Linked DNA regions of Homo sapiens. The protein of the gene in region 2 purifies or fractionates together with the protein of the main gene of each other region. This does not show direct contact. Each region holds a gene or a part of one and is shown on either strand. Other genes may lie near its edges.

Region 1 (3,820 bases), on a different chromosome or scaffold from region 2:
CCCATAAACTTAAGTCATTGAGACCATGGAATTCTGTTCCCATCCGATTCCTGTTGATGGACATTCGCTGTTTTGGCGTCATGGGAACTCCTCGGATGGTAAGTCAGTTTAAGGACAAAAGCGTGAGTCCATCGTTCCTGGGACAGTTTCCAGTGGCCCTGGTCAGGCCACGTCCACACTGGAGACCCCTTGTGCTGGACAGGAGACGCAGGCCGCTCTGTCGGAGACCACGCTGTCCAAGGCCCGCATCAGGATGTCTGGCATGTGGTCGGTGAGCATCTTCGGACCTATGAGTATTTTGCTGAATTCCGCTTCGTGTGACCACTTGGCGCTATAGTGAGCAGCAGAGCAGCAGCCAAACCTGAAGCAGAAAAGGAGAGACAGCTCCCACGCGGCCCCAGGGCTGACCCCGCGCTGCTCCTGCCTGCCCACCACACCCACCACGCCGCACTCACCGCCCCGAGGCGCCCTCCTCCTGCAGGTGGATGATCCTGCCGGGAGGGTAGAGAGGGGGGTACTTGGGAGAAGAGTCCAGTGGGGAGTCGCTGGAGAAGCTGTAGGCCGGGGACCAGCGCGTCAGTAGGCTCTGCTCCCCCAGAAGAGGCTGTGTCAGGACTTCCTGGTCGCCCCCGTCCAGCTCCGTGGGCAAGTTGTTGGGGTTTCCTCCAAACAGTTCGTACCACAAACCGTGCAGCAAGATCTTGTACTGAGGGCGAGACCCAATCAGTAGAATGCTGTCACTCACCCTCTGTCACCCGAGACCTCCCGAAACACCAAGGCGGACCAGGCACAGGAATCTGCCCTTTGACCCAGAAACCCCGCTTGGAAGACTCCAGCAAAGATGCACCGGCGAGCTGTGCTGGGTGGCAGCCACCTCGGCTCAGGACAAGGCTCTATGCCTAGTCACAGATCATGAGTGTGGGCTCTCTCTTGGGCAGTAAAACCATCACACGTGGAGCAATATTAAAAACTAAGCCATACAGACTGTGAGGGATATTTCCCTTAATTATTTTCCGGCAATTCTGGAAATCAGCTTTACCCTTCCTTCCCTGAAAGGCATTAGATATTAATTTCTATGGGCTGGAGCGCAATGGCGTGATCTTGGCTCCACAATCTGCCTCCCGAATTCAAGCGATTCTCCTACCTCAGCCTACTGAGTAGCTCGGCTTACAGGCTCCTGCCACCATGCCCGGCTAATTTTTTGTATTTTTTTTTTTTTTTTTTTTTTGAGACGGAGTCTCACTCTGTTGCCCAGGCTGGAGTGCAGTGGCACAATCTTGGCTCTCTGCAAGCTCCGCCTCCCGGGTTCACGCCATTCTCCTGCCTCAGCCACCAGAGTAGCTGGGACTACAGGCACCCGCCACCGCACCCGGCTAATTTTTTGTATTTTTAATAGAGACGGGGTTTCACCGTGGTCTCTATCTCCTGACCTCGTGATCCACCCGCCTTGGCCTCCCAAAGTGCTGGGATTACAGGCGTGAGCCACCGCGCCCGGCCTAATTTTTTGTATTTTTAGTAGAGACGGGGTTTCTCCATGTTAGTCAGGCTGGTCTCGAACTCCCGACCTCAGGTGATCCACCCACCTCAGCCTCCCAAAGTGCTGGGATTACAGGCGTGAGCCACCGGGCCCGCCCTAGATACTAATTTCTAAAAAAAATTTTAGGCTGGGCACAGCAGTGGCTCACACCTGTAATCCCAGCACTTTGGGAGGTCAAGGCAAGCAGATTGCTTCAGCCCCGAAGTTTGAGACCAGCCTGGGCAACATGGTAAGACCCTGTCTCTACAAAAAATACAAAAATTAGCCAGGTGTGTTGGCGCATGCCTGTAGTGTAGCCCCAGCTACTCAGGAGGCTGAGGTGGGAGGATCAGTTGAACTTGGGAGGCTGCAATGTGCCGAGACTGCGCCACTGCACTCCAGCCTGGGTGACAAAGCGAGACCCTGTCTCAAAAAAGAAAAAACTGGGGGAGGTAATTGGTAAGGAGAAAAATTTAAATTGCGTTTCTTCTTTCTGATTAGGAACAAAACCATGAGAAAGGTCAGAAAACAAAGGGATTAAACAAGTAAAAATCATCTCTACCGACACTAAACAAAACCACCCTTGGCATACGTATTTTCAAATTTTTGTCAAAATTCATATATCTGTATCTCCTTGTCCCCACTCTCTGCCATGAGTCATATCTCTTAAGAATAATTTTTAAGTTTTTTTTCTTTTGAACTTTTCAATGGATATCTATCTTTATCGGCAGACAGAAATTTCTTCTTTTTGGAGACAGAGCCTCACTCTATCCAACAGGCTGGAGTGCGATCTTGGCTTATGCAACCTCGGCCTCCTGGGTTCAAGCGATTCTTCTGCCTCAGCCTACCAAGTAGCTGGGATTACAGGCACTCACCACCACCCCTGGCTCATTTTTGTATTTTTACTAGAGACGGGGTTTTGCCATGTCGACCACTCTGGTCTCGATCTCCTGACTCAGGTGATCTGCCTGCCTTAGCCTCCCAAAGGGCTGGGATTACAAGCGTGACCCACCGCGCCTGGCCAGCAGACATAAATTTCTACCACCATGTTAAAAAACCCTTGACGTGGACATATATCACCATTTTAATAACTGCATGATATCCACAGTGTAGATAAATGTGCCTGTACCTCTTAAGGTCTATTTGGCAGCCTTGCTTTCTAAGCTTTCGGACAACAAAGCCAAAAGGCATTAACAAACTGTTAGTCACAAGACAGGACTAAGAAGTTTGTCAGAAAGCAAAATCAAACAGTTCCTCCAGAGTATTTTCTTTTCTTTTTTTTTTTTTAGAATAGAGACAGGGTCTTGTTGTGTTGCCCAGGTTGGCCTCAAGGGATCCTCCTGCCTTGGCCTCCTGAGGTGCTGGGATTCCAGGCATACACCACTGCTCCCAGCCCAGATCCTGTTTCCTCCCTGTGACATTTCCCGCACTTGCTGCAGCCATTTGCTTTCTTAGACATCACAGAGTCCTAGCCCAGAATCTGATCAGATGGTGGAAGGAGAACTTCCAGCAACAGCATAGAGTGCCCTGCACTGAGGGTGCAATTCCTCCCGGCTCTCCACAGGATCTCAGGGACAGGCCCCGTGTCCTGCTGACCCTCTCAACAAGGCACCCGCTTACCTTGGGTTTATTGCAGTGCGCGACCACTCGCAAGATTCTTCTCTTCAGATCTTCCAAGTTGGTCACACTGAGCCTGTTTAGCAAAGGGGCACACTGAGGCTGGGACCTGGCACTCCCAACCCCCCAGCCCTGGGCACAGCACCAGGTGGGCTTACCTGGGAATCACATCCTTCCCCAGGACGAGTGACACGATGAAGCTCTGAGAATATTCCTGCAGAGCTTTGCTGAAATTCCAAACAGAGAGAGGATGTTAGCTTTACGATGACACTGCCCACAAGGGCTTCCATGAAAGAAATCAGTAACACTGAGGGGTTAGGTTCCCAGGCCTCAGCTCTGTTCTCTCTTCTCTAAAGGGAGGGTAGGGGAAACGTCAGTTATGGCAACTCACTGGCCAGATCCTACTAAAGCCACAATATGTGTTCAACAGAGACGCCCCGCAGCTAAAACCGCAAACTGGACACCAAGGCGGACCAAGCACATGGATCTGTCCTTTGACCCAGAAACCGCGCTTGGAAGACTCCATCAAAGATGCACTGGAGGCCGGGTGCAGTGGCTCACGCCTGTAATCCCAGCACTTTGGGAGGCCGAGGCAGGCGGATCACAAGGTCAGGAGATTGAAACCATCCTGGCTAACACGGTAAAAGCCCGTCTCTACTAAAAATACAAAAAATTAGCCAGGCGTGG
Region 2 (3,820 bases):
ATGATCCAAGTATAAATATCAAAAATCCTGGACTTTAAAAATGAACTAGCAAAGAGATAAGACAAATACTAAGAGGGGAAAACAATGAAAATGCATGAAACCAGAGAAATACAGGAAAACGCTGAAGCAAGTGGCTGCCATAGGGGTATCTGCTACTCTCATGGTCTAGAACTTCGGAACTGATGGATCGCATGTAATAGAGAGTACAGCCCACAGCACACAGAAAGTTTCAGATCAAGATGCCAGCCAGGCGCAGTGTCTCATGCCTGTAATTCTAGCACTTTGGTAGGCCGAGGTGAGAGGATTGCTTAAGCCCAGGAGTTCAAGACCAACCTGAGTAACACAGGGAGACCCTGTCTCTACAAAAAATTTTAAAAACTTAGCCAGGCATGGTGGTCCCAGCTATGCAGGAGGCTGAGGTGAGAGGATTGCTTAGGCCCGGAAGTTCAAGGCTGCAGTGTGCCATGATCACACCACTGCACTCTAGCCTGGGTGACAGTGCAAGACTCTGTCCAAAAAAAAAAAAAAAAAAAGGCTTAGAAAGCCCTCAATTTAAGGATGACTATTTCCCTGAAACCTTCTAAGGCAAATTGCCTAAGTCCTTCTAACGGAAATTGCCTAAGTCTTGGCTCTTGGTGAAGGAAAAAACAAGCCCATGCCTTTAAACATTGCAGTAAACCTGAGCTCATAATGAAAATTCACAAACACATGAGGAAAAAAGGTACCATAAGCAAGAGTCCATTGTAAATAGTAGTTTTGGCCCATAGAAACATTAGATGCTAGAATTAAATGATATAAGTATATAAAATATATTTTTAAAAGGAAAGAGAAATACAAAATATGAGTAAAAAATGAGAATGTTTTAGAAAGTGAAAAAGTACCAATAAAATATCTTGATATCAAAAATATAACAATTGGCCAGGTGCGGTGGCTCACACCTGTAATTCCAACACTTGGAGAGGCCAAGGCGGGTGGATCACCTGAAGTCACAAGTTTGAGACCAGCCTGGCCAACATAGTGGTGCATGCCTGTAATCCCAGCTACTCCTGAGGCTGAGGCAGAAGAATCACTTGAACCTGGGAGGCGGAGGTAGCAGTAAGCTGAGATCATGCCACTGTACTCCAGCCTGGGCAACAAAGCAAGATTCTGCCTCAAAAAAATAAATAAATAAAGTAGCTATGCAGGACCATGGACTAGAGTTCAGGAGAGCACGAATTCTGCCTCCAGTTTTGAGCAACATATACGTTGTTCACTTCTCTGCCCTGACTCCTCATTATCCTCTAAGTTCCATGATGACAGGATTGTGGCCCCCTCATCGGCATATCCCTATGGACTGAGCCAGGCTTGGCACATACAAAGAGTCTAAATGCTCTAAAATAAAGGTTCAGAAATAAATAAATAAAGTAGAAAACTCGATGGATGAGTTAAATGGCAAATTAGACATATCTGAAGGCAGAATTAAAGAACTGAAAAATAAATCTTGAGAGATACATACCATAATGACACAAATATAGAAAATATGAGTGAATAAAAAAAGCAAAGTGTAATGAAAGCTCTAACATGCATCTAATGAGTTCTCCAAAACTGAGTAATAGAAACAATGAGAGAAAAAACTATTTGAAGAACTATGACTCCAAATTTTCCAGAACTGAGGAAAGCCACAAACCACTAGAATTAGATAGTCCAAATATTCCAAGCAAGATTAACCAGAGACATCTATACTGAAGACATCATAGAGAAACTGCAGAATGCTGAAGACAGAGAAGTTCTTAAAAGTAGTCATAAAGAAAAGATAAATTAACTAAAAATTTATTGATTGATTATTGCTGACTTCTCAATAGCACTAATGGAAGATAGGTAATAGTGGAATAATAACTTCAAGGTGTTTAGAGAAAATGACTGTTAACCTAAATTTCTATGGTTAGACAAACCATTTGTTCAAGATTGAGGACAAAATAAAGACATTTTGGATACCCCCAAACTGAAAAATCTTACAACCACTAGGTCTTCTCTAAAAAAATTAAATAAAATACTTTTAAAGGATTCACATCAGGAAGTCAGAAAATGATTTGAGAGGTAAGAAGAAATGTTGAGCAAAGAAAATGATAAACATGTGAATAAGTCTAAATAATGATGGTATAAAATGAGGCCAATATCTATTCCATGAGATTGACATAAAACAAGACAGAAACAAAATACTGGACAAAAAATGCATATATCAGGAATGTACAAAATTGTTCACACTAGAATGACTATGTTGGGTCTATTCCAAGAATGTATATTTGGTTTAACACTGGAAAATCTATAAATGTAAGTCATTGCATTAAAAAACTAAAGCAAAATGCTGTATCATCACCTCATAGATATAGCACATGCTTCTATTGTATGGAATACTACACAGCAATGAAAATGGACAGATTATAGCTACACATATATAATGGAGAGTAAAAACATTTTGAAAAGAATATCTACAGTAAGTTTCAATCACGTAAGTTTCACAAATATGCAAAAGTAAACAACATATTGTTATTCTGGATATATGTATATATTCTAAAAAAATACATATAGTAAAATTCAAAAGCAAAGCAAGAAATTAGTAAAGAAATAATTGATTATAATATAAGTAACCTCTCAGAGGGGTAAGGAATCTTCAAAGGTATTGAAAATGTTCTATTTTTCAAACCTGGTAGTGGATTCACTAGTTTTCATTCTATTATACTTTAAAAACTGTAAGTTTATATTGTTTCGTGTACATAAATTATTAATATTAGAAAATTTTTAATTTAATTTCAATTAAATTATAAATGCTTCAAAATTTGCTTCTCAAGTATGTAGGTAAGACATCTACACAAAATATAAAAATAACAAAACACAAATCTTGTGTTTTGAATTAGAAATTAGAAAAAGGATTGAGAAACATGATTAAATTAGAAAAGGGTTGAGAAACATGAAGGAAGAGAAAAATGAGGCAAAAAGGCAACTATATAAAATATTCCCCAAAACAAAGCCAGACTAAAAGACATCACCTAAAAAAGATCTCATTCATTACATTAAAATATGGCAAAAAAAATAGACAGCAATAACTGAAATGAGAGAGATTAAAGTATCAGAATGGTTCTGGAACTAGTTAGATGGTTTAGAGTCTTTTTCCCACCTTCTACTCTTTTTCCTTGTAAGAGCTAGAAAAAATCTCTATCTTCACATAAGGCATAACAAGCATTGCAATAACCACTTACTATTTGTCTAGTACATTATGGTTAAATACTGGTTTGCTGGAGATGACAAGATAAATAACAATGGAGTCTCTGATGTGAGGGAGCTTTTCTAATGAGAGAATAAGTTCAAACTTTAGCAGGTTAGAGATGAGGTATAACTTATTGAATGTAAAGATGGTTGGAATTGTAATATTCTGTGTGGCAGAGACATTAACTACCCACTGAGTCTACCCATGTTCCCTGCAGTGCCTAGCCCCCCTGCAGGTGGTGGGACCATGTGACAAGTTCTGGTAGGAGCCATAAGTGGAAAAGATGTGTGTCACCTGATGCCAAAGCATTAAAGGGTCAGTGTGTGATCTTCCAGCTCCTCTCTTCACCTGACCTAGAGATCTGGAAACTGTGTCCAAGGATCAGATCAGAGTGATTACTGAGTTACTGCAATGAGAACAGGTGCCATGGAGAGTTGCCTAACCTGCAGAGCAGTTTGTGTAAGCAAGAAATAAAGTCTTGTGGAAAGTCACTGAGATTTCAGGATTTGCTACTGTCATGTAACCTAGCATTATGCATGCACAGCACTAAAGGGGAAAAAATCCTTCTGAAGACTT

Evidence for each region.
Region 1: the proteins of ACVR1C (region 2) and DAGLB purify together in Homo sapiens (affinity purification with mass spectrometry; one large-scale study listed by BioGRID and IntAct). This does not show direct contact.

The regions. Positions count from the first base shown.
Region 1 is NC_000007.14:6,409,675-6,413,494, forward strand, and holds part of DAGLB (diacylglycerol lipase-beta), read right to left. Parts: intron 3,361-3,820; coding exon 3,292-3,360; intron 3,210-3,291; coding exon 3,137-3,209; intron 707-3,136; coding exon 456-706; intron 362-455; coding exon 163-361; 3' UTR 1-162.
Region 2 is NC_000002.12:157,534,630-157,538,449, forward strand, and holds part of ACVR1C (activin receptor type-1C isoform 1 precursor), read right to left. Parts: intron 1-3,820. UniProt on the Homo sapiens protein: Serine/threonine protein kinase which forms a receptor complex on ligand binding. The receptor complex consists of 2 type II and 2 type I transmembrane serine/threonine kinases.